3 separate regions of the Homo sapiens genome follow, and regions 1 and 2 are each linked to region 3. Evidence: fine-mapped expression QTL. A gene starts in region 3. Each other region holds a variant in brackets. All regions are shown on one strand. Distances are from middle to middle.

Evidence for each region. PIP is the estimated chance that this variant, and not a neighbour inherited with it, causes the effect.
Region 1: its variant is fine-mapped to the expression of RAI1 in whole blood (TOPMed, PIP 0.93).
Region 2: its variant is fine-mapped to the expression of RAI1 in whole blood (TOPMed, PIP 0.94).

What each region holds. Positions count from the first base shown.
Region 1 is chr17:17,697,033-17,707,333 of GRCh38, reverse strand. All of the region lies in intron 1 of RAI1 (retinoic acid induced 1), which reads right to left. LOC124903943 (a long non-coding RNA gene) reads left to right here. Exons shown (of 2, transcript XR_007065650.1): 2 at 1-9,784. Among named protein-coding and RNA genes, the nearest start is that of RAI1, 21 kb to the right of the region's middle. RefSeq lists a silencer at 865-1,159 and enhancers at 6,578-7,089, 7,569-8,086, 8,087-8,605. The variant C/T (reference allele first, on the strand shown) is at 5,715.
Region 2 is chr17:17,753,305-17,763,605 of GRCh38, reverse strand. The region is part of intron 2 of RAI1 (retinoic acid induced 1); the gene reads right to left. It overlaps RAI1-AS1 (RAI1 antisense RNA 1), which reads left to right. Exons shown (of 2, transcript NR_130894.1): 2 at 4,220-4,452. Among named protein-coding and RNA genes, the nearest start is that of RAI1-AS1, 7.8 kb to the left of the region's middle. RefSeq lists enhancers at 1-328, 329-941, 5,971-6,070. The variant T/C (reference allele first, on the strand shown) is at 5,099.
Region 3 is chr17:17,676,592-17,686,892 of GRCh38, reverse strand. RAI1 (retinoic acid induced 1) reads right to left here and starts at 5,435. Exons shown (of 6, transcript NM_030665.4): 1 at 5,100-5,435. SMCR2 (Smith-Magenis syndrome chromosome region, candidate 2) reads left to right here and starts at 9,205. Exons shown (of 4, transcript NR_131243.2): 1 at 9,205-9,318. RefSeq lists silencers at 3,775-4,724, 4,711-4,883, 4,895-4,974, 5,035-5,174, 5,205-5,714 and an enhancer at 4,793-5,394.

The sequences.
Region 1 (10,301 bases), 20 kb before region 3:
TACTTTTTTTTCTCACTACATCTATCTTCTTTTTAAAAGTATTTAGTTATTTTCAGAGACAAGGTCTTGCTATGTTACCCAGGCTGGATTCAAACTCCGGGGCTCAAGCGATCTTCCCACCTCAGCCTCCTGAGTAGCTGAGAATACAGGTACACACCACCATGCCCAGCTAATTTATGTATTTTTTGTAGAGGCGGGGTTCTGCTATGTAGCCCAGGCTGGCCTCGAACTCCTGAACTCAAGCGATCTGCCTGCCTCAGCCTCCTGAGTAGCTTAGGACTAAGGAGCATGCCCCAGATTGCTCGTCATTAGCTGCCTGTCTCCCACTAAGACAGGAAGGAGCTCACCAGGGCAGAGATCGCTGTCTGTCTGCTCACCCATGGGCACCTAGGGCAGAGCCCAGCTCACAGTAGGATCTCAATAACTGTGTTTCAAATGCATGGATTAAAACATTCCTGTTACACAAGACCAGCATTCCAATGGTGGAATCTTTAAAAACTTTTCCCCTGTGGGAGTTTCAATTCTTTTTTTCCCCTGAGCCCACACAGAGAAGAAATGTGTGCTTCCCGGCTCCCAGGGCAGGCCCCACCCTCAAACCAATGGTTTGTCTATGGGCAGGAGGGGTGATTCTCACTTCAATGTCCTGTCCATTCACCACCCTACATCCTGGACATCTCCCCTGGATGCCGCTCGGGTGCCCCAACTCTACTCTGATCCCTCAAACTTTCCCCGTCACTGCACAGGGCCACCCCCATCCAGTCCCCGGCTCCCTCTGGCTGCTGGTGCAGCTCACAACCACTGGCCATCCAGCCCTGGGCTTTCCCTGGCCCTGCTCTTCCTCTTCAGACCCATGCCAGCCCTTGTCCACCTGGATCCTTGGCCCAGCTGCCTACCTGGTCTTCCTCCCTTCAGCAGCTGGCCTCTTGTTTCACCTATGCATGCCCTCTCATCATTCAGTGCAGAGCACTGCACACCCCATGACCCAGGGACCAAAGTCCCCCTCCAGCTTGGCCACTACACGGTCCCATCCCTGCTGGCCGGACCCAACTGCCTAGTGCTTCCTGTTACCTGTAGGCCTTTCTCCAGCAGACCCACTCCCCCAAGTGCCATTCCTTCCCTCGCCCCAGCTCTGCAAATCTGACGCCCCACCCCAAGCATCCCATAGGGCTGCTGACCTCTGGGCAAGCACCGTGGCTCTGCAGAATGATCCATAGCTCCCTGCTGGCCTGTGCGCTACCTCAGGGCCTATGAAACAGGTGGTCAAGTGGCGTTTGGTTTTTGTTGCCTTTTTTTTTTTTTTTTTTTTTTTTTGAGACAGAGTCTCGCTCTGTTGCCAGGCTGGAGTGCAGTGGTGCGATCTCAACTCACTGCAACTTCTGCCTCCCGGATTCAGGAGATTCTCCTGCCTCAGCCTCCCGAGTAGCTGGGACTACAGGCACGCGCCACCATGCCCAGCTAATTTTTGTATTTTTAGTAGAGAGGGGGTTTCACCATGTTGGCCAGGATGGTCTCCATCTCTTGACCTCGTGATCTGCCCACCTCGGCCTCTCAAAGTGCTGGGATTACAGGCGTGAGCCACCGTGCCCAGCCTTTTTGTTTGTTTTTTGAGAGAGGGAGTCTTGCACTGTCGCCCAGGCCAGAGTAGAGTGGTGCGATCTCAGCTCACTGCAACCTCTGCCCGCTGGGTATAAGCGATTCTCCTGCCTCAGCCTTGCAAGTAGCTGGGACTGCAAGTGTGTGCTACCACACCTGGCTCGTTTTTGTTTTTGTTTTTGTTTTTGTTTTTTGAGACGGAGTTTCGTTCTTGTTGCCCAGGCTGGAGTGCAATGGCACGATCTCAGCTCACCGAATTTTTGTATTTTTTAGTAGAGATGGGGTTTCACTATATGATGGCCAGGCTGGTCTCAAACTCCTGACCTCAGGTGATCTGCCTGCCTTGGGCTCCCAGAGTGCTCGGATTACAGGCGTGACCCACTGCACCCAGCCAAGAAATGTTTTTGAAGGAATAAATGATGTAAAGAAATTGGTGATAAAGCAAACAAATGAGTGAGAAAATGAGTCAAACAATTATAGAAACAGATTGGTAATAAAGTTCTATTTTTTGACGGGTCTCCTCCATGGCTGTTGTTCTCCTGGATGGACCCCTGGCCGGGGGACAGGCTTGAGTGATGATGATGATGATGATGAAGAATCAGTCAGGATGTGCTAGCCATGTTGCTGTAACAAAACTCTCAAATCTCAAGGGCTCACAACAACAAAAGTTGGTTTATCCTTCACACTACCATCCACTGGGGTAGCAGGGAGGCTCCCTCTCACTGAGCAGTTGCCACCTTGACTTTGGTCTACCAGAGGAAAGTGAGTTCTGTGGATCCTCATGGCCATGAAAGGCTCTGGCCTAGAAGGGACATGTCACTTCTGCTCACACCTCACGGGCCATAACTGGTCACATGACCCTCCCCCGGCCCCCCCACCCAAAAACCACCAGGAAGCACAATTTCCCCACGGGCTTGGGAGGGTGGGGAACTGGAAACTTTGGCCAACATCTCTAAGGACATCTCAAACACCACCACCAATAACAACACAAGCAGCAGAGGCCACGTATTAGCTCCTCCCATGCCCTGGACACCAGGCGAAGGACCTGAAGTGGGAGTTTCACTTACTACTCATGGTAACGTCCTGATGTCAGGACTATGCATATCCTGCGTTCCAGATGAGAGTTAAAGGCTACACAGAAAAGGGACTCACCAAGGTCACAGAGCTCATGAGGATGGAGTTGAGATCGGAACTCCTGTCTGTGTGTGCCAGGCCTTTACACACCCCACTGCCCGGCACGGGTGCCTGGGGAGGCTGGCTGGTGGTTAAGGACTGCCCTGGGGAGACAAAGAGCCCCCCACATGGAGGGCCATTCTGACCACCCCACCACAAAGAGCCCCCTCACACTGCCATGTTGTCCACTTTCAGGCGTCCAATGCTAGAACCCCTGGAGATGATGTGGCCAGTCCCAGATTCTGCTGAGAAAGAGACAGGCCCAGAGGGAGCAGTGCTGGAGCCAAGGTCACACCTTGTGCAGGGCTGAAACGAGACTTCAAGTCTTTGTCCACCATGGTCTGAGTGTCCCCAGCTGCCTCAACAGCACTGGGTGTCCAGGGACAGCCTCTGCCTCAGGAAGGCCCCTCAGAAGCAAGGGTGAGCACACGCACTCCACTTTCCTGGCAAGCCAGGCAAGGGCACAATGGTCCACCATGGCAGAGTCCCCAGGCCCTGGCCCATCAAGCCTGCCGCCCTGACTGCTTGGGCCACCCCCCGAGGAGCCGGGCTGCCCTGGTGCACAGTGGCTCACTGCTCCCACGGTCAGTCCCCAATAGGGAGACCCGAGAAGCCTGGAGTGAGGGAAGACCATGCTCTAAGGCTCCCCAGCCAGGACCTCTGAAGACAAGGACTTGGGCCCTCTGGGAAGCCAGACGAAGGTTCTGGGCAGAGTGGAATGGAACAAAAGAAAAGGGGTTGGTGGAGTTTGAAAACAGTCCCAGCTAGGCATGAAGGCTCATGCCTGTAATCTTAGCACTTTGGGAGGCCAAGGCGGAAGGATCGTTTGAGCTCAGGAGATCGAGGCTACAGTGATTTATGATCATACCACTGCACTCCAGCCTCGGCAAACAGAGCAAGCCCCTGTTGCAACTAAAACAGAAACAAAAAGAAAACAGACCCAGCTCTGCTCTGTGACCTTAACCTCTATGAGCCTCAGTTTTCACTATGCTTGTTTTGCCCACCAATGGCCCCCTCCCCCTGAGCCCCAGAGCCGGAGCCAACACCTTTCCAGAGCCACAGGTGGGTCCCCACCCCAAAAAGGTTATGGGAGAACTCCTGCTCCCGACGCTACAAGAATGCACTGCCCTCAGAGAGTCCCTTCCAAAGGTTTTTGGCCTAGGGGCTTGATCAGAAAGCAGTCCCCACCCTGCATGGAAACCCTCACACGCTCTATTCCCCAGGTTTTGCTGATGATTCTGACTTGCAGTGCAGCCTTCCTACGTCAGCCTGGCCTCCCAGCGGGGCAGTAGGGGGCGCGGCTGTCCTCCTGACCCTGACCTGGACAGGAAGTTGGATCCTCCCTAGCCTCCTGTGAGCCCACTCCCTGCCTGGAAGCCTTGAGTCTCCAAGTCCCCTTACAGCCGCTGTCCAACTCCTGGGGGTGGAGGTGCAGGTTGGGAGGAAGAGTGATGGAGCCTCTCCACTGCTTCTGAGCCCTGCTCACTGCTTACTGCCCCAATCATCCAGTCCACAAGCATTTATTGAGCACTTACTACACGTAAAGTACAGTGCTAACCACTGTCAGAGAGATGAAGTTGAAAGGCAGGGCCCCACCTCCTCACGTCTGGCAGCAGCAGCAGATGCATTACTGATGCCGCACAGCTCCGCAGTTACAAACACAGGCTTTGAAGTCACACAGCCCTGGGTTTGAGGCTTAATTTTGCCACCTCGGAGATGAGTGACTTTGAGCTCACTCCTCACCCCGACTGGCCTCAGTGTCTGCATCTGCAAAATGAGATATTAAGAGAAGCCACCTCATGGCTGGTGATAAACTACTGGATACCAAGAGTTTCACATAGCCTGGCAGGGAGGTGCTAAACCCCTGTGAGCCTCATTCCTTGCCTTGACCAGAGCAAGGGCAGAACCCCGAGGCATGCCAGTAGGGACCTCCCTCTAGGTTTCTACCACCTCATTAATCAGTGACGACTGTCTACCCGGCTGTGATGCCACCTGACGCTCCTGGCAGCCTGCCCATTCACCTCCATTTTGTCTGCAAGGACATCTGGGGACAAGAATGGGAGAAGGGGCATGGAGTTGGGCAGCAGGCCCCACTGCTATTAGCCCTGATGGGGTCACTGCTTATCCCCCCTTCCCATATACAGTAGGCTCACAATCATCATCCGAGGCTTGGCCTGGTAGTGAGGAACCCAGCTGAAGATAATAGGCTGCATCCTGGGATGAGGTGGGTGGTACAAGCTTTTGTGCCAACTGAAGGGTCTGAATTTGGTCCTCTTGGCAATAGGGAGGCAGTGAAGGTTGCTAGGCAACAGAGGACCCTCTGCCCACCTCTCCAGCCTCATGCCTCCACACTTTGGAGTGAGCTCAGTTTTTCTGTGGTTGTCCCTTACTCCCTCTCCCCTCATGTCAGCCAGTGTTCTGCCCTAGCCAGGGCTGAACTCCAATTGTTTCCCTACCTGGAATGCTATTCCTGCCAATTAGCTCACACTTATCCTTCCTTCCAGGCTGAGCTTAGAAGCCTCTCCCAGCCTTCCCAGTTTGAGCTCAAAGACTGTTCTCTGCTTCCTTTAAATTGGTCCTTTTTCCATTAGAGGACAAGTATTCCTTTCGAGCGCTGCCTCCCCGACTGGAGTCCTTGGAGGGCAGAGCCCAAGTCTGACTCCCCTCTGTGCTCTCAGCATTGCCTGACACAGGCAGGACCAGGGCTGGGTGGCCTCCCAGTGGGCACTGTGCAATGCTTCAGGCTTTGGTCTCTGAGACGCACAAAGGGAGGAGGGATGGGACTGGAAGGGGCAGAAAGGAGGGGCAACCAGGCATGGTGGTGCACACCTTGTAGTCTCAGCTACTTGGGAGGCTGAGGTGGGAGGGTTGTTTGAGCCCACGGGTTGAGGGCTACAGTGAGCCATGATCGCACCACTGCACTCCAGCCTGGGCAACAAAGCAAGATG[C/T]GGTCTTCAAAGAAAGAAAAAAGAGGGGCTGGGTACAAGGGGACATGGAAGAGAGAGGGGAGGGAAAGGGGACCATCTAAAAACTGCATGAGCGGTCTGTCTATTCCCTCTTCCGTTTTCCTTCCCTCTGCAAAAAGAGAAGAGTGAGAGAAGGGAATGAGGGAGAGAGGAGGGGCAGGCGCCTATCCCAGGATCACTTGATGGGGTGGGGAGGAGCACAGGGAAGTCCCACAGAGAATACCATTAGGTCTCAAGGTTTCCCTGAGGTTCCCATCAGTCTCACAGCCCCCTGCCTAGGCAGAAGGCTCAGGGCAGCAGTGCAGCCCCCACAACCCCAGGGCCATCCCCAGGGAGATGGCAGGGGCATGCAGAGATAGGGCAGTCAGGCAGACTGGCCTCAGTGAAATGTCAGTCCAGAGGGAGGACACACCCAGACAACCTTCACCATGGGCTAGCCCACCCCTCAACAAAGGGCCCAGACCCATCCCCAATCCCATCCCAGGAGGACAGGGGCTCATCTTGTTGGAGGCGCAGGGGTGGGTTTCAGGGAGGATGAGCGAGGAGGGAGAGGGGTCTTTGTTGCAGGCAGAGGTACCAGCTTCTAAAGACGAGGGGAGTAAGGCCGAGATGAGGCATCTGGGGTCTCTGCGAGGTCACATTCAACCCTCAAGAGCGCCTGGCACGTAATGTGCAACCACCATTATTATTGTTCGTGCAGAGCAGGGTGGCACTGGGTCAGTGGCAGCAGCGGTCCCGAAGGGCCTTGAATGCCAAGCCCAAGATGGCCGGGGGACGGCGCGGGGGAGCACGAAGCCGGCGCGGTTGAACGCCGGGGAGCGGGCGAGCGGATCTCCGCCGAGGCAGGGCGATAAATTAATGAAACGAACGCGCCGCGCCCCGAGGACGAGAGGGGCCGGACTGCGGCCTCGGCGGACGAGGCCCGGCCTCGCGGAGGCCCCGCTGCTCTCCTCTTCTCTCCCATCCCCTCCCCTCCCCGCCGGGCGTCGTTTTCCAGGTAATTAAGGCCGTCCCGGCCGGCGCGCAGCTGCTTCCGCGGCCGGCCGCGCCTCAGGCCCGGGCAGGTGCAATTAAACCCGCGCGTTCGCAGCCATTAAGCTTTAATGGGGCTCATTAGCATAAGAACGAGAAGACGCTTTGATGGCGGCCACCCCCGCAGGGGCTGCGCGCGAACGCCGAGGGGCGGCGGGGCGCGGCCGCTGGAGCCCCGAGCCGGGAGCCGCGCCTCCAGCTCGCGGCCCGAGTCCTGCCAAGGCAGTCCCGCCTGGGGCCGGGCGACAGGAGGCGGGCCGCGGAGCTTGACCTCGTCTCAGGGGTTCCAGGCTGCGTCCGAGAGCCAGAGGTTTCACAGGGCCCAGGCCCCAAGAATAGGTCTTTGAAGGACGAGGGAGGAGGCCCAACCTAGAGAGCAGATGTGCTTTCCCAAAGAAGCAGCTGAGGAAACTGAGGCCTAGAGGTGCCATGTGACACACAGCCCCGGTCTCAGCCTGCAAGTGGTTCATTTATTCAACAACGATAGCAGCCAAGGCTTATGTGAGTTTTAAGGATTTAGCATAAATTTTCTCACTTAATCTCCCCAAGAGCCCCAGGAGTAGTGGATACTTGCTCTTGTGATCCCATTTTACACAAGAGGAATCTGAGGCTTGGAGGGGGACACCCAAGGTCCCACAAGCCACAGTGAGCTTTGAACCTCGACAGTCTGGCTCCTGAGGCTGGGCTCATAACTAGGAAGCCACACTATCATGTGTGACATGACCAGGAGAGGCACAGGGTGGGGTGGAGTGGTGGGGGATGGGACCGTGACCAGCTGGTGGGCTGGGTGGGCCATCCTACCCGGCAGACAGTAGCCATCTCCACCAACTGTGGCCGGGGGAAGCAGGGTAGAATAATCCAGAAGAAATGTAAACTGGAAATTGGAAATGAAGTCACTCAACGATTACTCACTGGCAATTCATTTGATTCCCCCCCCCCCGGCCCCCCGACAATGGATGGGCTTTCAAAACAGGTCTGTGGTCAGGACGTGGCAGGAGGACCACCACTTTGCCATCTCAGTCCAACATGGAGTGCAGTGTGCCCAGCAATTACTAGGTGTTCAGGAAACACTAGTCAAGCAAATGAATGAGTGAATGCATGAATAAATGCTTTTCTCTGCAATTTTGGGGCAAAATAGGGGACTAATTCTTCAATTTAATGTTTTCCAGGCTTTCTTCGATCCAGGTGGCTCTGTGAGAGCAAAAGGGCCCAGAGGAACTGGCAGGTGGGGCCTGAGGCAGCGGTGCTGTGCTTGGCTCCAGGCGTCCCCTGGGGCAGTGCCTCCAGCATTCCAAAGTCAAGGATGTTGCCGACAGATGTCTTGAGGGCCCTGGCAGGGAGCGCAAAAAGCACTGAAGAGGAGACATATACTGCCTGAGTTCCACTCAGAGGTGACGGGAGCCAGAAGGAAGCCACCAGCCTCTAGGAGCCCAGAGAAGGTGGGCAGTTGCCTGAGGCCACACAGCAAGAATCTGGGTCTCCTGATTCCTTCAATCCCGGCTGAGCCTTTACCCAGTGCCTGGATCAGCCCCCAGTCTAAGCACAGGACTCCCTGTCTCCATCAGAGAAGCTCTGCCTGGCCTCTGTCTTGGCTTGTGATCAGCCGGCATTCCCATGCATGAATGCACGACTCAGATCACTTGATTCTTTGATTAATGTCTTTCTTCCTTTGGCCACACCTCCCTCAAGGGCAGGGATTTTGTGTGTCCATCCAGATCATGGCTGATCTCAGTGCCTGGCACACAGTAGGCCTCCAAACATAGATATCGACCAGGTGGAAGTATTATTACTACAGAGTCACAGCGCCAAAGAAAACTCAGTGCCTGGGGTGAGCTTTCCTACCTCCCCAAGCTCTCATGCCCACTCACAGCTGGCTCAGGGGCTGAGAGGGGCCTCAATGCCTCCACAGCTGAGCTGGCCTGGGGGTGCAGGCAGGGGAAGGGCTCAGCTCCCCTTCCTGTCCTGACCCTGAGGCTGGCCCACCCCCTCACCTCCGGTCTGCAAAGGTATCTGCCCCAGGGGGGCCCTCAGCAGCCTCATTAGGAAAGTAGTGACAGACACATTCAATATAAAGGGGTGTGGGGGGAGGGGGAGACCGAGGGCTGTTACAGGGTTGTCTGCCGCTTTCCTGACTACTGGGCCAGGGCTGGGCCTAGATGGGGGACAGAGACAACGCCCAGAATCCAGAGTTGGGCCCCAAAGCAGGGATTTTCCCATCATTCCTTGCTGTTCTTGAGTACTGGTGGGACTCAACTCTTGAGTGGCAGGAGACAAACCCCAGCCCAATGCCCTAAGCCTGCCATGAGCCACCCAGAAGCCCGTGTGTGAGAGCAGCCACAGGGACCTGGGCGCCTGCCCTCTGCAGCAGAAGAGGAAACTGAGGTCCAGGGAGGAGGAGCAGGGTCACCCCACAGCAGCGCACTGGAGTAGGAGCCATGCTTTGCATTAGGGCTATGGCTGTGGGCCTGGACCACCTTGACCACCGAACTCCCTCTAGTCTCTGGACTGCAGGGCAGGAAGGCCCAGTTCTACTGGAAGACAGTCAGGTGTTGTCAGTGCTCACCCAGGGCCGGATGGAAAAGCAGATGCCCCAGCAACTCAGTCAGTGCGCAATGCCCCACCACTGATGAAAAGTGGGTGAGAGAGATCCAGGTCTCACACCACAGGACATGCACACAAACAGCTACTCGGCCACACACAGAGGTGCCCCCAACACACAAAGAACGTGTGACCTGCTGTGGATACTGCCTGGTGTGTAAGCACCCATACCCTCAGCTCATTTCCCCAAATCAGACACACACACAACCACACGTTGGTCCCAGTGACAAACAGACACACAAGCCACCTAACAGCAACCCCCTGCCATGTACACAAACCCCAACTCACTTTTTACACACACACAATCCCCAAGCTCAGGAACACACGCAAACCCATCTTGTCATTTGGTTAAATTCCACACCCAGGTAACACCCAGACCACAAGAGCAAATCCAGATAAATAAATCATGTTCAGCACATCAATCTCGGCCCCAGCCTGGCTGCCTCCTGGATACAGGTAAAGTGAAACAGGTCTTAAATATTTTACAACTGAATAAACCTGTTAGAGCGGGCCGTTGGCTGCAGGCTGACAATGTCCCTCCCTAATCTTTTCCCTAATCTTTTCATTTCTGAGAGTACACAGCGGTGATGGCAGGTGGTGGCCAGGCAGGGCATGGCGTGCCCATGCCACACCCGCTGCCCCTCGGCCAGGACTGTTATTCCCGAGGAAAGGGGCATTCTGTGATTTTTCCATCCAGTAAATCCAGATGCTGTTCTGATACAGGGCCCTGCATCCTCTTGTCTCTTCAGCTTTTTCCCCAAAGCCTTGGATGCCTTTTAAATGCCAAACCGTCCCTGGCAACTGTGATTTCCCAAGGCCTGTTTCACGCAGGGCTTGGATGTGTTAGAATTGAACCGTTCTGGAATAGGGGAGAAGAGACAGGCCTGGCAGTAGGGATAGGTCAGGGCAAGGGCAGCTTGTAGCTAGGGCCAAGGGGCA
Region 2 (10,301 bases), 77 kb before region 3:
CTGTGCCCAGCACACTTCTCCCTGCCTGCCTTCCAGGCAGACTGCTTTTGCTCCTTGGCCACTCCGGCAGAGTGGGCTGGCCCCGTCTTTTGGCTCCCAGGGTCCCTCGGTGCCCCCTCTGCCCCAGCACAGCTCACCCCTCTTGCTGCTGCCAGCAGCTCCTTGAGGGCGGGCGTGTATCAGTGGTCAATTGTCATTTCCCATAGGAACAAGCAAGGAAGGGAGTGAGACACACAGGCTCCTGACCTCCAGCTCCTTGGGGAGGGACTTCACAGGCAGCTCCCGGTCTGGATCACAAAGCTAAGTGCAGCCCAGCAGCCGTGGTCACTGGGTGGATCTCTAGGATTCCTCTGGCAGTCTCCACATGGCTAGCAAGCTCTGAAAATGCGGCGTGTCTTAAACCTGTCCCCCTTCTCTACTTCCAGGGGCTGCCATTCCCACCCCAGGAAAGCGGGGGGATGCAGGGAAGGATCTGGGGGAAACGGTGTTGCCAATTAACCTGTTTTAGACAATGCAAGTTGGAATCTCAGAGAAAGAACTTTTTTTTTTTTTTTCCAGAAAAGCCTCCATTTGAGGCTGTGTGATAAATGATCTCTGGGTTCAGCTCTGGCCTCGGAATCCCAGCTACAAATGCCAGCGGGGAACCACCTGGAGCAGGAGGGTTTCCAAGTGGCCTTTATCGACTCTGCCAATCATCGGGCCAGCCCCCATGGGAGCCTCTTGCTTTCAGCCCTAGAGAGAGGAGGGGGTTGGGGAGTGGGCAGTGTGGGCAGGAGTGCAGTGGGGAGGGGGAGGCGGGTGCATGAAGGAGTGAACAGGCTGTGGAAGCACAGGCCTCCTGGATGCCCTGTGTCCTGGGGGCTCTTGGTTCTACTGAGCTCACCTCTACCTGCCCCTCCCGACAAGTCCCCCACCACAGAGCAGAAATGACTGGGATCAAACCCCTGGCCAGTCACAGCTGGCGAGTCTCTGAGCAAGCACCTCACTTTCCTCTGTGTTGCCACAGACTCTGGAAGCCCAGAGAGGGTGGGCCACTTGCTCAAGGTCACACAGGAAAGTAAAGTGAATGCTGAGAGCCAGATCTCCTGCTTTGGTGGGGAAGCTCCCTTGCTGCTGGGGGTAGAGTCAGAACTTTCCCTCAACTAAATTTGAACCTCTTAGCTGTCTAAGGTTAGGGGTACTCCTCCCCAGCTTCATTTCCCACCCCGCTCCCATGCACACTCCAACCACACTGGCTCCCACTGGCTCCTCACACATGCCATGCCCCTGACCCCCAGGCCTTTGCACATGCTGTTCCCTCCGCCTGGGACGCCATCCTCCTGGGTCTTCTCCAATGAGCCCAGTCACCTCATCTGAGAAGCCCTCCCTGACTGCCCTGCCTAAGGGAACTCCCCTAGTCCCTAGCTCTTACCACTCTCCAAAATCACCTCCCTCGTATATTTATTCACTCTCTTTTCTCTCTGCACTGGTAAGCTCCGTGAGGGCAGAGTCCATCTGTCTTGTCAGGGCATACAGCAGACACACGCATGCCCAATGGATGGGTAGCTGCTGGTGGCACTCCAGCCTCGAGCCCAGTGCAGGGATGAGGCCTGTGGCTGTTTCTGGGCCGCGCTCACACTCAGGAACTTCTGGTTCAACCAAAAGTCCCTTGGATGCCCTGAGACCTCCCTCCCATGCCTCCCTCCCTGCTGGGCCCCCTGTCCTGAGACCTTTCCATCCCCCCACCTGCCCTCGCTCCTCAGTGACCACCACCTTTCTCCCACTCAACTGTGTTCCCTGCTCAGATGCTGCCCAGGCCCCAGTCACCAATCAGACACTGTCCCTGCCTCCTTGGCCTGGCATTCACAGGGGATTCCCACCCACCTCCCCAGCTCCCAAATTTCATGCCCAGCAACAATGACTTACAAGGAGCTACTGGCACCCTCTGGGAGTCTCCCAACCTTTTGTGCCTCCCAACCTTTCCACCTGCTCCTAGTTTGCCTGGCAAAATGCTAGTAGGCCTTGTCACTAGTTCAGGGATCACCTCCTCTCAAATCTCACTGTGACTTTCCAACTGATGCCTGCCCTAGATACCCTCTTCCCCTTCCACCATCCCCCGGGGCACTGGCCACTCCACAGGTCAGGATCCACAGCTGTCAGCCTCCCAGCGAGCCTGCTGCTTCCAGTTCCACCATGGTGCCCCTGTGCCTGGCACAGAGTAGGTGCTCAGAAAAAGCTAATGACGTGGGCTGGTAAATGGATTGGTACGATTCCAGAGGCTCAATCTGGTGGCTGCATGTGTGCCAGGAACCTAAGAGACCAGTGAGGAATCTGCCACCCCCACTTCCTTGGGCACTAGTTAAAAAAAAAAAAAAAGCCTTAGAAGAACCATTTTCATTTGCCAAGCACTTACTATGTGCCAGTCCCTGTGCTGAGGCACTCACATATGGGTCGCCTCTTTCAACCCTCAGGACAATACTGGTCTATCATTATCATTTCCACTGTAAAGATGAGGACTCTGAGCACAGAGAGGACAAGGAACTAGCCTAAGGTCACACAGCTGGGAAGTGAATGAGCTGGGGCTTGAACCCAGGTCTGTTTGACTCCAAAACACTTTCACTGTGAATGAGCTGCCTATCCCCTGAGTATGCAGTTCTAGGAGGTTCTTGGCAAGGGGGTAATCTGCGGGGCTTCCCTCCTGAGCCCTCTACGCCCATCACCTATAGGCACGCCTTGATGCCAAACTTCTCCCTCCCATAAATCAATCCCCAACTTCTTTGGCTAGGAGGTGGGGGCTTCTTCCTGAAGCCTTTCTTGGCCTGGCCCTGGGCAGCTAGGACCAAGCAGGAGGAAGGGTTTTCTGCAGTGTGGCCCTAAGCCCTGTGGCACCAGCACCTGGAACACATTTTATTTTAGCTCCACACGTTCCCTGCAGGGTGGTGCCACCATTTGACAGCCGAGGAGACCAAGGCCCAGGCCCCACAGCAGCTCCAGCTTCTAGACTCTGGAAAGATACACCCTTTGACTTCTGGGTGGGGCTGGGGGCCTCCTTGGTGTGGGACTCTGGGAGTGGACGTTGGACGTCAGGGGCCCCTCTCCATGGCGGGGACCCAGGGCTAGGCCACTAACTGAGCTGCCATAAACCCTCGGCATCCAGGAGTTCCCAGGCCAGGGACACTGGGCTGAGCCAAACTTCTGGGTACAGTCTGGGTGACCTTGACCCTGATGCCAAGCCCATCCCGAGTATGCAGGATGTATGGGCTTCCCTCCTGAGCCCTCTAAGTCCATCATCTACAGGCACACCTTGATGCCAAACTGCTCCCTCCCATAAATCAATCCCCAACTTCTTTGGCTAGGAGGTGGGGGATATCAGTAAAGTGGGGGCTATCAGTAAAGTTGGCCCCTCACTGTCTACCCTTCCACCATTACAGCACTGCTCGAGCACACAGCCACAGTGACCTGGGCACTTGTCTGTCTTTCCCCCAGGGCTGGCAGCAGGTGGGGGCAGTACTCTGTCTGGGTGCCTAGTCCTGTCCAGCACAGGGCTCTGACCAGGAGGGAGCCCTCTGGGGATGTCTGTTAGATGAGTGAATGGACAGTTATGCATTTATTTCCCTTCTGCTTTATTCTACAGCCCATCTCCTCCAGGAAGCCCTCCCTGAAAAACTTCCATCTATTACCCCAAGCATCCAGAGCCCTTAATAAGCACAAATCTTACCCCAAGACTCAATTTAGCCCCAGATCAAGATTACAGCATCCTAGTGGGCTCTGTCCAACTTGTACTCAGCTTCACGGACACAGCTTCCACTTCTTTTCACAGCTCTGCATTCAGCATCCACTGGGGGCCTGTCTCCATGCTTGGTGCTGAGTGCAGCAGTGGGCAGGCCAGGCACGGCCTCTGCCCTTGAAGACAAGCACCGAACATTCTAGGTCAGCTGGGTCCCCTCTGGCTAGCGTGGCTCTTGGCAAACCTCACCCCGAAATATGTGCAGACATGGGGAACTATTCCAGCGTATGAAGGGCGAAAAGCAGGTCACTGAGGGTATGCAGAAAGAACATGATGCAACTTCTGTTTTAAAAAATGTGTATCTGTACCTGGTTCTGGAGCAACTGGGCCCAAAATGTGACCTGGCCATCAGAGGGTGGGGGTGGTGGGGTGAGACTGCAGGGAAACATTATTTTCTTGAGACTTCTATTTGCTGAATGTTCTGCAATGAACATATATATTATTTGTCACTAGGTGGAGAGACTGCCAACGGACGCATCCATAGCTGGGCTGAAGTCTGTGTCTCAACTTGTGTCCTGATTTCTGGAGATGCAAAGAGTGAGACAACTCCTCGTAGTTGGCCACTCTGACCTGGCAAGAGCCCACAAGCTCCCTGCCCGCTTCTTCTTCTCTAGGCATGCTGTCCCAGGGTCTGAGGTCACACCACCCTTCCCCATGTGGGGATGGACATACAGCAGGTGCATCTTAACAGCTTGCAGAGAGCAGCCAGCCTCCCCTGCTTCCTGCCTGGGCAGGTGTTCTCACCTGCGCAGGCCTTGGTATCCTTATCTGCGCAATTAGGGTGATACTCCCCAAACCCAAATCTTTGTTCCTCCTCAGCTGAAAACCTTCCATGGCGACCAGAACCTCTAAGTAAAAACTCTCTTGCTTGCATTCAAGGTCCTGCACCCTCTGACCCCTGCTCCCTCTACCAGCCCCCCTCCCCACCAAAACAGGTCAGCCTGTAATCCACCTGTCAGCTGGGCAGCTTCATACCCCTGGGCCTTTGCATACACCAGTCCCTCTGTCCAGAACACACAGACCCTCCCCTGTTCATCCTTCAAAACCCTGCCCAGCATCAGCCCCCGTGAAGGGCCCTCTGCGATATCCTCACCGCCCTGAGTATGCTCCTCGTACATACGTTGATCATTGCACAACTGCAATTAGGGGTTGGCGCGTCTGTCTCCTACCAAGCCAGATGCGACAGGGATTGGGCCTTTTGTCTTTGTTTTAAATCTCTGGTGCCCAGATACTGCCTGCAGAGAAACAGGCACTCAGGAACGTCTAGCTGACAGGTGGGTGAGTCGGTAAACAACATCTGCACAGCCCTTTCCAGTTTACGAAGCCTTTTCC[T/C]GTCCTCCATCTCACAAGCTTCCTCTAACCAGGGCAGCAAGGAAGGGAGGCTCCCGGAGCCCGTCCCTGTCCATAGGTGCTGCCTCTGAAGGCCTGGGAGCTTCAGGGCCCCTTGTCTTCACCTAGGCAGGAGCTGGGGTCTTCAGGGCTCACCAAAAGCAGCTGGGACCTCCTTTCAGCTGTAAGCCACCCATTTCCTCTGCCAAAGGCTCCCTCCCCGCCCATCCCCTGGAGAGGGTTTGCTGAGTGCCCAGGTGGTGGCCGGGTTGGTAGGGCTTGTGGCGGCCCTGCCATCCTGCCCGGAGCTGCTGGGATGCGGCCGCTGGAGCAGCAGCTCCACCACCGAGTCTTGGTAACAGTTGCTATGTAAAACGCTCGGAGGGGGAATTTACTGTCAGCGTTAATAATAGATGAAGGTTTCAGAATTTCTGATGCCTTACGTTCTAAGCCGTTTGATTTATAATGTCTCTGGAAAGGGAGAGATGAGGGTGGGGGCGAGGTAGGAGGCCCAGAGGCATGAGCTGGGAGCTCATCTCCCTGCACCTTTGGCAGACAGGGAAACCGAGGCCCAGAAGGGGAAAGCTACTGAGTCGTGTTCTTCCAGAATGCCAGGACCCGTGGGGACTTCAGATGCCCAACACTGCCCTGTTCCATGGGAGGGGAAACTGAGTCTCAGCCTCTCCCGCCCCGGCGCCTGGGGTTGTTTTGATGGATTACTGCTTCTCCTTTTAGCGTGAGCAGGTGTATCTCAAGTAGTCTCCGGAAGTGGCACTGATGGGCGCCTGCGGCGGGGGCTGTGTGGGGCTGATTACAGGCGCTACAGAGGCAAAATGCGAGTCCTAACTTCCCTTCTGCTTAGCTGCAAGTGGTAGTGGTTGTTGAGTTGTGGGAAAAAAAAATCCTCCGAGAAGAGGCGGCAGCCACGGCTGGGCAGGAAACAGGGCTGTTTAACTGGGGTCCTGCTGTCCCAAGAAAGCCGCAGTGCCCGAGGGGGAAGGTGGAGCGCAGGCAAGGCACACACTGGCAGGTGGGCCCCGCTGCAGCCAGGCTGTCCCCCACCCCTACGGCAGGCTGGGGTTACTGGAATTGAACTGGTCTGTAGAAGGGTTGCTGCCCTCTCTGTGCTCACATCCTGCCGCCCCCCGGCTTGGCCCACACTGCCTCCTGATCTGGAGCTCTCTCCTGCCTCCGCAAACCCACCTTGGCCTCTCAGTCCAGGCTCAGGAAATCTTTCCTGACTCTGCAGCCAGATGAGCTGCCGTCTTCAGGCCAGAGAAGCCAGGCCCAGGGCTGAGCACCCAACACCTCCACAGCTGTCCCCACTTATAAACTGGGGTGTGTCTGGGCTCAGGGTCTCCCTGCCTCAGGGAGCCAAGAGCTCTCCCTGGACCCCGCTCCAAGCATGTGACACCACCCTATCCCTCCCTGGGCCTCCATCTGCTCCTCTGTAAATGGAGGTGGCCAGCCTGACCCCGCGGAGATAGGGTGAAGTGTACACAGGGCCCGGCATTCAGCACCCTCTGGGGGCTGCCCGAGAGGGCCCACAAACTCTGAAAGGCAATGGGCATGCGGTTAATAACAATGGCAACAGTCATGAACAGAATACCGTTCCCACCGGGCAAGCACATCACCCCAGTGAACAGGTGGGAAGCCTGAGGCCTGGCCAAGCACACCTTCACAGAAGCCCCTCTTCCTCCCCGTCCACTTCCCTGCCTCGTTACCGACGAACTGATTTGCTTTCTCCAGTGCCCCCGACTCAAGCGTCTGCTTCACTAAGAGGATTTTTGGTCTATTTTGTTCACACTGTGTCCTGAGCACCTGGGACAGATTAGCACGTAGTAGGCGCTCAAGGATTTGCGGAAGACTCTATGGAGATTTTCTGATTTGAAGCTAGCACACTTTACTTGACTGCATCTACCTTTATACGTAAGGGAGGTAAAGGTGAAGAACAAGACAGTGGAAAGCAAACACACTATTTCAAAGGAGTTTCCAAAAATAAAAAAATTCATTCATGCCAGGTGCAGTGCTCACACCTGTAATCCCAGCACTTTGGGAGGCAGAGGCAGGTGGATCACCTGAGGTCAGGAGGTCCAGACCAGCCTGACCAACATGGAGAAACCCTGTCTCTAATAAAAATACAAAATTAGCCAGGCATGGTGGCAGGCACCTGTAATCCCAGCAACCTGGGAGGCTGAGGCAGGAGAATCACTTGAACCTGGGAGGCAGAGGTTGCGGTGAGCCGAGATCACACCATTGCACTCCAGCCTGGGCAACAAGAGCAAAACTCTGTCTCCAAAAAAAAAAAAAAAATTCATTCACTCCTGCTGTGGCCAGGCACCCCCGTGCCAGGTCCCATGATGGATGCTTAAGTTTCGCAGGCTCCAGAACTCCTGTCCCAGGGGAACAGGGACACAGGCAGTCCCAACAGGCCCTGCAATAACCAACCAGACCCCACATGGAGGCTGGCCAGGCCCTCCTGGCTTTCCATGGTGGCTAGGGCTCACGTAAGGACTGGGTGCACCGAGGGCCGCACTGGGGACACTGGTCCCTGGTGAGCTGCAAAGAGCGGCCAGCTGGATTTATCACTAAAGGGAGAGGGTTGGGGATAGGGAAGGGTGATGTGTGCAGAGGGTACAGCCCTGCCCAAGCTGTGAGGCACGGCAGGCCTTGGGGTGAAGAGAAGGCGGGCTTGACAGGGTGTAGGCCGGGTCTGAGGGATGCTGGGTGCCAGGGGAGGAGCTGGGCTTTGTCAGAGAGCCCTGGGGCGACCCAGCCAAATCTGAGGGTCAGGATGACATGACCCCATGGGAGAAAGCATGGCTGGGCCCAGGATAGGATAAGCAGGGAAGGATCTGGGGGGACGCACCCCTGCTGGCTAGGACACTGACTGATGGAGGAGGACATGCTCCTTGGAGGGACTAAGGGTCTCTGCTGGAGAAATGCCCCCAAACAAAGAGCTCTCTCCTGAGTCTACCACCCTCTGCCCTCCCTGGGCTCCAATGTCCAGGCCCCCTGCCCTTCAGTCAGGCCCAGCTGGGGCAAGTTGGTGAGGGTGACCCCAAGGTCGTGGCAAACAGGGAATGCCAACTCACCCTGCCAAGTGGTTCCAGTGCCCAGTGCTCTCCCTGCCCTCCTAACTCTAGGCCTACACCTCTCCTTTCTGCATCACTCCCGCCCCATCCACCCAGGGAGCAAAGCTGCCAGAAGCTAGAGCCCACTTAATCAGCCACTCAGCATTCCATAGAGCTGTATTACACACCATGCGCTGGGCCCTGTGTGGAGGGCTCACAGTCCAGCACTGGGGTGCTGCCAGGCTCTTGGGGTGACAGTGTGTAAACAGGCCTGCTAAACCAGGGTGGCAGCACCGTGACAGGAAGGCTCAGGCTGTGGGAGCTCAGAGGAGCCCTCTAAACAGTCCAAACGTCAGGCAAAGCCTTCAGGGGGAGGCATGGTGTGAATGTTGTGGGGGTACAGCTATGGCTATTTCCTCTCCTCTCCTGACCTCCCCGCTGTCGCACTCCAAAGCCTGTGTTCATAAAGCCGCTCCAGACAGGTGGGCCTTCTCTAATCCAAATTACCAGCCCTCTCAGAGCCTCAGTTTTCCTGATCTATAAAATGGACCCAATGAATGTAGACTGGGAAAGTGCTTACCAAGCACCTACTATGTAGTTACTCCTCTCTCCCACCCTCTGTGCAGAGACGGGCCTTGCACCCTTGCCCTATCTTCCTAACCCAAGTTGAGGCCTGGTGGCAGCCCCCCAACCACTGCCCAAAAACGCTTAGGGCTCTGGAGTACCAGGAACTGAACACTAGTAGGTACAGGCTGTCGGATATTATTTGTTATGGCTTTAATAACAGTTTACAGAGGGCCGGTTTCCCATGGCTAAGGCACATAATTTCTGTAACTTTACTAGTGCCACTAACTTGAGTTGTCATGGGAGGCAGGAGGGGAATTAAAGATCAGGTTAGGGAGGCTGGGCGCAGTGGCTCATGCCTATAATCCCAGCACTTTGGGAGGCCGAGGCAGGCGGATCACCCGAAGTCGGGAGATAGAGACCAGCCTGACCAACATGGAGAAACCCCGTCTCTACTAAAAATACAAAATTAGCCAGGTGTGGTGGCGCATGCCTGTAATCCCAGCTACTCGGGAGGCTGAGGCAGGAGAGTTGCTTGAACCCGGGGGGCTGAGGCAGGAGAACTGCTTGAACCCAGGAGGCGGAGGTTGCGGTGAGCCGAGATCGCGCCATTGCACTCTAGCCTGGGCAGCAAGAGCGAAACTCTGTCTCAAAAAAAAAAAAAAAAAAAAAAAAAAAAAAGATTGGGTTAGGCGAATGGCATAAAATGCCTTTGTACAAAACAGGAAGACACCCCAGGTGCCAGGCTGCACAGCTGGCCAGTGGCTCGATTTCTTCCAGGGATCCTTGTACAATGTACAACTTGTACAACCATACACTTTGGCCCTAGGTTCAGGTGAGTGTCAGCATGGAGGCCTTTCCCCAAATAGGTCTCCCCTGCTTTACAGACCACCCAGCCCAGGTATGAGACCTTGAGATCCAATGCAAAGTTGAAGTGTGTGTGGACAAGCACATTTTTCTGAAGAGGGTCTAGAACTTTTTTCCAAATCCCAAAGGATCCACAGTTCCTCCAGTCTAGACTTGAATCTGGAGCCAGGGTCTGGGGCAGAGAACGGTAGACTTTCTAGAGCCTGGAGAGGAGTTCAAATGTGTTCTGAGACACAGATATCTGTCATTCCATTTCTCAAATGATGGACTTAAGACTGAGTATCAAAACCACACACAGGCAGTTTGAATAAAAGGGCATTCCTGAGCCCCACCCCTTAAAATCTGTGATTTGAGGGTGGCCTGAGCCCAGGAATCTGCTCCTAGTACAAACTTCGGGGTGGTTTATAGCACCCAGCAAAGCTCAGGAAGCTCTGATTTAATACATTGTTATTAGCTTGGCTCAAATTGCATTTTCTTTTGGTGTTGGTGAGGAAACAATGTATATACCCCAGAGATCACCCAACTCCCAAAAGGCTATCCATGTATAACCGTGAAGCCGATTTCATGAGTTTAGCTCCCTTTTGTTTTGTGGGAGTGCCATGGGGGTAAGGGGTGTGGAGATTTTCTCGCTGCTCTACCACTCCAACCCCCACTCCAACCCTGTCAAGCCAGGACAAGGCACAGCAAGTAATACACAAACG
Region 3 (10,301 bases):
CCAAGCAAGAGAACACTTAGGGTTGTCTGCTGGACAGACGAAGGAAGGCATGGCTGATGGTGGTGTGAGACGATGCGCCTGGCTGCTTTCCTTCCTGGCCCTAAGCACACTCTTCATACTCTCCAGCAGCAGCAGCAGGAACTTCTCCCTCACTCCTTGCCGTCCCCCCACTTCCATCTCTCCCTGTCCCTGCTCACCACTCCCCAGGTCCTCCACCCCCACTCCACCTCTCTGCCCTCATGTTTTTCTCTTCCCCATCTCTCCCCTCCCCGGCGCGCGCGTGCACACACACACACACACACACACACACACACACACACACACGGGTTCAAGAACCAGTGGAGCGAAATCTGTCCTTTGCCAGCCAAGCCCCAGCCTGTACCTCCAAGCCCTGCCTCCCACCCTGCCTCCCCTTCCCTGGTGTCACATTCCAATCTCAGATCCCCAGTGACCCACCAGGAACAGGGCACAGCTCTGCCTCAATCACTGGGGAACAGGATGAGCCAGTTTCTCCCAGCCCCCTCAGGAAGCAGCCTGGGGAAGCTGCCCGCCACCTCCCCCTGCCCCCCGACCCCACCAAGCCCCTCACCCCACTCATCTAAAGGCTGACAGCACAAGATCCACACAGACCTGAGCATGCCCTTGCTAAAGATCAAAGGGGCCCACGGGAGACAATGTTGGGGCTCTCACCCTCTCCACCTCACCTGGCCCTCCTGCCAGGAAGCATTTCTGAGCGTCCTGTGTTCTAGGCCTCGCCCTTGGCACTGGGCCGGAGAGAGCAAGGAGACGTGCTTTCAGGCCTCGATGCTTCAGCCTCATGGGGAGGACAGACACTGGCAGAATTGCCGATAATTCCGTGATAAACGCTATGCCACGAGTATAGACAAAGGGAGATGACTCATTCTGCCTCGGAGGTCAGAGGAGGAGGAGACAGGACGTCTGTTTTGGTCTGGGGCGGCAGGGAGGAAGGTGAGGGGCATCCCAGGTGGAAGGAACAGCCCAGCCCGATGCACAGAGGCAAGGATGCACATGGCTGCACCTTAACAAGGAGGTGCCAGCTGTGGCTGGAGGGGACAGGACTGAATGAGGACAGGGCAGGCAGAGGACACCAGAAATGGCCCTGGACAGCATGGGAAGAACTACAGATGGGACCTTTATTCATAAGGCAGCAGGAGCCACTGGAGGTTATCTGCTGGGTTTAGAACGATCGCTCTGACAGTGCTGCTGGCCAGCACCTGGGAGGGGACAGGATGGAGGCAGGGAGGCCAGTGAGGAGGTCCCAGCAACAGCCCAACCTCTTCCGCCACCATTCTTTCTGAGCCAAGTCCTCCCCTCTTGTTTGGCTACAGCACACAGGCCACATCCCTTCCAGCTTCCAAAGACTCGCTCTGCTCACTGTGTTCCCTCTGCCAGGAATGCTCCTCTCACTCTTACCTCGCCGTGCCTGAAGCACCTGCTCAAAGGCCCCTCCTCCAGGAAGCCTCCAGCTCTGGTCGAGGCCTTGGCTATGAGCTGGGTCCCAATCACCCACTGGGCTGTGACCTTCTTGTGGTCAAGTGCAGGGATGCTTCCTGCTTGGACCCCGACATTAAGCACAGAACTTTGGAAACAGTGGGTCCTTGGAAAATCCCTGTTCCCTTGGGCCCAGTGCCCAGGTGCCTCTCCCGCAGAGACGCTGCTCTGCGCACACCGTTGCTGTTGCACCTCCTCCCTCCCTGTGGAGCCACACGTTGGATAGGGGAGGAAAAAGACACCCATGCCATGGCCACAGGCAGCTGTGGAAAGCAATGCATTTCAAACATGGGCTGCCATGGAGATAGAACAGCAATAACAATACAACAATGACGGCAGCAATCAGCATTTATTGGCAAAAGCACTGCTCTAAACTTCATATGGATTAACTCACTGCATCTTTACTTCAGTACCGTGAGGTCTGTACTGTTATTCTCCTGATTGTAAAGATGGGGACACTGAGGCACAGAGAGGTAAATGGCCTGTTCAGTATGTGGTGGAGCCAGGAGTCAACCCAGAACTTGCCCTGAAGGACTTCGCCACACAACCAACCTCTCCAAGACAAACGGAGAGGAAAAAGGAAGCTGCCGAGGAAGAGCCCACAGTATGTCCTCACTTGGGGAAAAAGAAAACTATGCATGGATTGGTATATGTAATATACATACATACATACATATATATATATATATATATATATATATATATATATGCATTAAGTGAGTAACAAAAAGTCTGGAAGGATACGTTCAAACTATTAACTGGGGTTACCTGCAGGGAGGGTGCCAAGGGAACTTTTACTTTTACTACATATATTTCTGGCTTATTTGCATTTTTCACCCAAGTATCCAAGTGTTACTTGAGTAGTTTAACATGAGAGGAATTATTAGGGTTGCAATTAACATTTGTTGCATGAATAGATGGCAAATTCATTTCCTAGGCTTGTTTTTTTCAAATTCTGGGTATGACCCATCAGTGGATTGCAAAATTAATTTCGTGGGTAGCAATCAGTAATTAAAAAAAAAACAAATACACAAGAACAAAAAGGATTACAGACCAGCAGACACAGTAAGGGAGTTATTTCAGTAAACTTTTGTTTCAGCTATATACAGTGTGACCTGTGTAGTTACCTACGATGTATTTCTTACTATAGGTCACGGGCAAGAATTTGAAAGCAATTGGTCTAGGCTTGGGAGTCTAAAGAGGAGTAAGGCTGGGTGCAGTGACTCACTCCTGTAATCCCAGCACTTTGGGAGGCCAAAGAGGGAGGATCGCTTGAGCCCAGGACTTCAAGACCAGCCATGGCAAGACCCCTGTCTCTAGAAAAAAAAAAAAATTTAAAATTAGCTACGTGTGGTGTCGGGCGCCTGTGATCCCAGCTACTCAGGAGACTGATGCTGGAGGATCGCTTGAGCCCTGGAGGTTGAGGCTGAAGTGAGCTGTGTTTGTGCCAAGGCACTCCAGCCTGGGCCACACAGCAAGACCCTGTCTCAAAAATAAAACAAAGAGGAGTAAGACAGGGTCCCTGCCTATGAGAGCCCCACAGTCTAGTGGAAGAGAAAGGCAGCTCCAGTACCCCTGAGTTCCCTTTATCTCCACAGAAGCCAGAGGGATGCTAGGCTGGTGGGAAAGGTCCTATTTTGCCCACTCCACAGTTGGCTTCTGGGGCCTGGATCTCACCTTGATACATTCTCCTCCTCTCCAAGGCTTTTGCTTGTGAGAGCTTTTGCCAGAGTTATGGGGCTGAGCCTGCCCTGAGATCAGAATGATGTGTCCACTTCTGTGTCACGCAAAAGGCCACTTTTCCTTGCTCCTGGGCCCCGAATATACCGGCTTGCCTGTCAAGAGGGGGAGGGGTGGGAAACTAGAAGATTCCTTTCCAGTTTCTAGATCCCGAGGGCCACGTCCCAGGAAAGCCTCTGAAAACCCAGCTGTGTGGTCAGCAGGGAGGGGCCACCATTCAGTCTGCAGCGAGGGCTGCCCCCCACCTGGGGTGGGCCTGACCCTGAGCAGAGCGAGGACTGTATGGAGAATGGAGGGGGGCAGGGGCAGGAAGAGAAGCAGAGCCCCCAGCTCGGGGCTCCCATCACGCTGGCGCCTCCACATCAGAGCTAGCCTAACCCACCCCCGCCTCTCCTCCCAGGGCAGCAGACAACTAAAAAAAGATAAAATAAAAAGAAGTAATTCCCCTGCTCTGACGTCAGCGCGAGGTCTTAACAGCCCGGCAGCGGCATGAAACTGGATTGCAACCAGATGTAATGCCCTTGAATTCTCAACACACTACTGCATTGGAAAGACATAAAAGGGGGGCGGGGGACAGTATTGGTGGGAGGAACCGTGCAGATCCCGAGTGGGTCCCTGAATCCGGGCCCGCCGAAACCGCGGGGAAGGCGGCGCGGGAGAGTGTGCGGCGCGCGGAGCAGCGCCCGGCCGGCTCCGCCATTCAGGCGCGCGGCCTCCCCTCCCCCAGCCCCCACCGGCGCATTGTTACACTCGCTCCCATCCATTCAGAGCCCGAGGCCCGCCGCGCCCCCGCCAGCCCGGGCTCCGCGCAGGAGAGCACCGCGGCAGCCCGCACTCCGGCCCCTGCGTGGACTGGATAACGACCAAGAGCCCCAAGAAAGAAAACTGCTAGCCGGGAAAACGGGCGCCCCAGGAAGCTGGGGCCGCGACGGCCTAGGGCCTGGCTGGTGTTTCGCTTCCCCTCCGCCCCACCACGGAGGCCCCTGGCGCGACCAGGCTCCAAATGTCACCCTCGCGTCCTGCCACCCCTTGTCCCCGCCGCACTCGGCCCCCATGTCCTCCTCCCGGGTTCCCTGCCTTCAAGGCGCGTGAGAGGGGGGGCCGGCCTCGAAAAGGGCGGCGGGCTGCGCCGCCGTCTGTGGGGCGCAAGGCTCGCGTGTCCGGGGCCCCCGCCCGTGACGTCATCCCCGAAGGGCCCGTGCCTCCCGGGCCTGGCCGCTACAGAGCTCCCCAGGTCGCGGGGGCCGCTTCCTGCCCGGCCTCGGGGCCTGCGCACAGGCCCCGGGGCCGCTGCCCGGGTAGGGACACCGCAGAGAGCCCGAGCACCCATCTCGCCACGCACGGCCTTCGCCGGCCCTGACTCCCAAGCGATGGCCACGCCGGGCCCGGGTCACGCATGGGGAAGTCAGCTCCCCGTCCCCCACCTCGGACGCACTCACAAAGCTCACCTCCGCCCCCGGCGCCCCGCGAATGCACCCCACGTCCCCACCCCACGCTCCGCAAAGACTCCGCGCCTCGGCGCAAGCAGATCCCTTGCCACACTCGCCCCTCGCGCCCCCATGCCCCCACCCGACCTCAGCTGGCCGCACATCCCCCAGAAGACCCTCAGCCGCGGCGCAGGGCGCCCCCACCCTGCAGCTCCCCAGACGTCCATCCGGTGACCTCGCGCACCCCCCACACCACACAAAGCAAGGACCCCGCGGACCCCACATCTCCACCCAGCGCGCGCGCTCGGCGTCCGAACCCGCCTCGGCTCATCACCCGGCCTAGGATCCCGACGCCTCGCGCCGCCCCCGCCCCGGGGCAGGATACACTGCGCCCCCCGCGCCCCGGCGCTCGCTGCTCACCTCGGCGCCCGCGCTCACTCGGGGGCCTTGGGTCTGGCGCTGCGACTTCGCGGCCCGGAGGCCTGGGTGGCCATGGGGGTCGGGGCGCGGCGGCCCGGCCGGCCCGCGGCCAGGCAGGAAGGAGGGTGGGCCGCGGCGCCCCCTCCTCGCGCCGGCGCTAGGGCCGCGGGCAGGGCGGCCTGCTCGGCTCGCCTCTCGCCCTCGCTGCACTCGCTCTCCCACTCGTCTCTCGGAGCCCAGCCGCGGGCGGGGGCGGCGCCCGGGGACGCGGGGAGCGGGCCTTGGCCGCGCACCCGGCCGGGCCTGCCTGGTGTCCGCGGGTGCCGCGAGGAATGCGATCCCCTCCGCACAGGAAGAGCGGACGAGCGGACGGGCGGGCGGGCGACGCGCGGGGGGAGAAGGAGAGCAAGAGCGCGAGGAAAAAAGTTCCCGGGCGGCCTGGCTGCGCTCGCTCGCGGCCCCGGGCGCCAGGTGGGCCGTGCGCGCCCCGACAGCACCCCCTGGCGGTCCGCGCGCCCCACTGCGCGCCCCCCGCCCGCTGGCCGGCCTGCGGGAGGGGGCCTCTGCGGTGGGATCCCGGTGCGGCCTGGGAGGACACTAGCGCCCTGCGTACAGGAGCTTCCAGCGTCAGGCCAGGCCCCCACCCTCACCCCACCATTAGCCCTCACCTGTGCCCACTTCTTTGCAGTTTGAGAAACATTTTCGATTTCAAAACTCCATTGGCTTCATGTAAACTTCATTTACTGGGCACCTGGCACCTTGCTGAGTCTTGAGGAATCAGCAGAGACAATGCGGTCCCTGCTGTCGTGGAGCTGGCATCCTGGTGGGAAGAGACAGACAGCAAACAAATGCTTAGATACATGACGAAGATAATTTTAGAGCAGTAAGTGCTAGGACGAAAATTAGCAGGTGAAGTGACGGCTAGGGCTCCTTGGCTGGGGGAGAGAGAAGGAGGCCTGTCTGTGCAAAGATCTAAATAGCAAGAGGAACCGCCATGGGTAGAGTCTGGGAAGAGCATTTTGTTCTTTTAGAGGCAGGGTCTTGCTGTGTTGCCCAGGCCGAACTTGAATTCCTGGCCTCAAACAGTCCTCCCACCTCAGCCTTCTGAGTAGCTGGGACTACAGGGGCCTGCCCTCCTGGGAAGAGCATCATTGGCAGAAAGAACATCAAGTGCAAAGGTCCTGAGGCAGGAGAGAACTTGGTGAGTAAGTGGAATTGTGAGGAGGCCGTCAGCAAGGGGACAAGTAATGGGCACATTGAAGTCAGAGCCATATCGGGAGGGCCAGAGCCTGCAGGGCTGCAGAGAGCTCAGTGAGGAATTTGTTTGCAATTCTAGTGCAAGGAAGGTAGCCACTGGCAGACTTTAAACAGAGGCATGTTGAATGAGAGAGTCCTTGCATGAAACTTAAGGTACAGACCTCGGAGCAATTTCATGCCTAGGTCTCTACTTGCCATAGCTCAGGTGGGAGCTCACTGCCACCTGCTTGGGAAGCCTCTCAGCCCCACCCAGGCTCTAGGGTCTGTGGGATATGACCCCATTAACAGCCCCATCGAAGCCTCCCTCATTTGTCCTTTGGTAGGGCAGAGGGGAGCTGGTCAAGGCATCAGAGCTTGTGGGTGACCTGGGACAAGTGAATCCTGCATCTGCAAAATAAGGTATTGTGATAGATGGGGGGCCCTCACTCTGTCCCAGGCCTGCTGTGCCCCTTCTGTGCATGGTCTCATTAGATCCTGGTGCCCCCTCTGTGAGGTCGGCTCATCACATTTTGTGGATGAGGAAACAGGCGCAGAGTGGTGAAGTCCCCTGTCCAGGTTCTCAAGCTACAGGACAGAATCAACACAGGTCCCCACAGTCCTTCCTACTGGACTTGGCTACCCGTCTCCCAGGGTGAATGTCAAGAGCAAGACAGAGCTGGATCCCAGTGCGAACTGTGTTGTTTTAAGCTTGTTTTAAGTGCGGTTTCTGGATGACAGATCTGGTTTATTTTTATTTATTTATTTATGTATTTTTTTTTTGAGACGGAGTTTTGCCCCTGTTGCCCTGCCTGGAGTGCAATGGTGCGATCTTGGCTCACCACAACCTCTGCCTCCCAGATTCAAGCAATTCTCCTGCCTCAGCCTCCCGAGTAGCTGGGATTACAGACATGCACCGCCACACCCACCTAATTTTGTATTTTTAGTAGAGACAGGGTTTCTCCATGTTGGTCAAGCTGATCTTGAACTCCTGACCTCAGGTGATCCACCTGCCTCGGACTCCCAAAGTGCTGAGATTTCAGACATGAGCTACCGCGCCTGGCAAATCTGGTTTCTAAACGTGGCTCCTCTATGCCCAGCTGGGTGGCTTTGGGCAAACTACTTAACTTGCTGAGCCTCCGTTTCCTCATCTGTAGAATGGGGATAATAGTACCTACCTCATGGGTCTGTTGAGAGGATTGAATGAGGTACGTGTGGAAAGCATTTAGCTCACAGCCTGGCATGCAGTAAGTGCTATTACTGCTTTAAGATGCTAGATTAATGGGAACAGTCCCTATCATCCATCCAGGGCTCCCAATCTCCACCCCGAGCTGGTCTCCTGCCCTCCCTGCCTTACCTTAACCTGCTCCTGAGTGGAGCCTAAGGGAAGGCTGGTTCTAGGGACCCCAGTGGGAGGCAAGACAAGGAGGTCTTGCTGGGAGATTTCTGGTTCCCACACAAGGGTCCCCAAGACTAGCTTCTCCACCTGGAGAGGGTGGGAGACCAGCTGGAACCCCAAGGAGAGTCAATTTTCTGGCCTTGGAATTAGGTATTTTTTGTTTTGAAAATTCCTTGGTATCAAGTTTACATGACTGGGGCCACTGGACCCTGTAGGCAGGGCTGGGGGTACAAAGAGGATCACAAGCCTGGCCTCTTTGGGAGCCATAGCTCAGGCACCACTCAAGGAAGCACATTTGTTCAAGGGATTAGCATTTCTGGATGTCAGTTCAGCGAAGGGTTGGAGGAGGTGGCGATTGAGGCAGACCTCAGAGGATGGGCAGGAAGGGAGCCCTGGGTTGCAAAGGGGATGGGTGTCCCAGAGAGTGAGAGGAGGAAGGAATATGCAGGCAGATGGAAGAGGGTGTGCGGTCAAGGTACTAACAACTGCTTTTGTGTGTGAGTGTGAATGTGTGTATATGTGTGTGTAAGACAGAGTCTCACTCTGTTGCCCAGGCTGGAGTGCAATGGTGTGATCATAGCTGACTGCAGCCTCAAACTCCTGAACTCAAGCAGTTCTCCCACCTCAGCCCCCTGAGTAACTGGGACCACAGGCATACACCACTATGCCTAGCCAATTTATTTTTTATAGAGATGGCATCTTGCTATGTTGCCCAGGCTGGTCTTGAATTCTGGGCTCAAGTGATCCTCCTGCCTTGGCCTCCCAAAGTGCTGGAATTACAAGTGTGAGCCACCACGCCTGACCAGAACTGCCACTTTTGAGTACCTACTGTGTGCCAGGTGCCTAGGGATGTTGTAACAAATTCCACAAGTGGCTTAAAATAACACAAATTAATTAATTAATTAATTTATTTATTTATTTATTTATTTATTTATGACAGAGTCTTGCTCTGTTGCCCAGGCTTGAGTGCAGTGGCGCAATCTTGGCTCACTGTAACCTCTGCCTCTCGGGTTCAAGTGATTCTCGTGCCTCTGCCTTCCAAGTAGCTGAGACCACAGGCACATACCACACCACCAAGCCTAGCTAATTTTTGTATTTTTTGTGGAGAGTGGGTTTCACCATGTTGCCCAGCCTAGACAGATTTATTCTTTACAGTTCTGGAGGTCAGAACTCCAAAATCAGTTTCACTGGGCTAAAGCCAAGGTGTGGGCTGGGCTAGCTCTCCTGGTGCCTCCAGGAGAGAATCTCTTCCTTGCCTTTTCCAATTTCTGGAGGTTGCCTGTGTTTCTCAGCTTGTGACCCCTTGGTGACCTCCAGAAGCTAGAACAGGCAAGAAAACAATTGCTTCCATTGTCCCAGCTTCTACTTCCTCCCTTGACCTTCCTGCCTCTGCTCATGAGGACCCTTGTGATTCCATTCCGGTCCACCTGGATAATCCAGGCTAATCCCTCCATCTCAAGAAGACTCTTAATTTATTTAATCACATCTGCAAGGACCCTCTGAATGCTGTCTTGCCTCAACTCATTTTACAGATAAGAAAATCAAGGCTCAGAGAGGTGAAGTCACTGATCCAAAGTCACACAGCAGGTGAGTTTAGTCACCCATTTCATGCATGGAGAGCCCACTGTGGGTCAGACACTGGGTTAGACCCTGGGTTGCAATGTGAAAGTTACCCATGAAGAGTGCTGTGGTGCCCAGGCATGCAGAGTAATGACCTAGTCCTGTCAAGGAATTCAGGGAAGGCTTCCTGGAGGAGGTGATTAGTGAGTTGAGCTTTCAAGAGTGATTTTCCTCTGCCTGCTTTAACCAGGGAGGCTTCTGAACAAACGAGGGCCCTTCCAGAGGAGGACAGCCATAGGCCTAACCATCCTGAGACTGCTCTGAATGATGCTGGTTGAGAGGGCTCAGTCTTCTCAGAAGAGAACTAGGAACTGATCAGGGATCACTGTCAGCAGAGCTAGCCCCAAGACACTTCTGCTGCTGACCCTGCTTGTCATCCTTAGTTGCACACAGGTAGAAGGGTGAGCAGGGGTGTGCACGCTATGCAATGCAGAGGCTCAATAAAGTCAGTGTTGGGGCAGAGTCTCAAACTTGCAGCTCAAAGGCCGAACTCAGGCTGCTAGGTTTGTTTTGATTGGAAAGCAGAGCAAAAAGTGAAAATTTTGAAGTTGACATACGTTGCCAGGTGCAGTGGCTCATGCCTGTAATTCCAGCACTTTGGGAGGCCAAGGCGGGAGGATCACTTGAGCCCAGAGTTCAAGGCTAGCCTGGGCAACATAGTGAGACTCATCGCTACAAAAAAAAAAGTTTTGTTTTGTTTTGTTTTGTTTTTAATTAGCCAGGTATAGTGGTGCATATCTGTAGTCCCAGCTACTTGGAAGGCTGAGGTGGGAGAATCGCTTGAGCCAGGGAGGTCGAGGCTGCAGTGAGCCATGACAGTGCTACTGCACTCCAGCCTGGGGGACAGAGTGAGACCCCATCTCAAAAAAAAAAAATAAGAGAGAGAAAAGCAAGAAAAGAAAGGAAAGAAAGAGAAAGAGAAAGAGAAAGAAAATAAATATCTTTAAGGA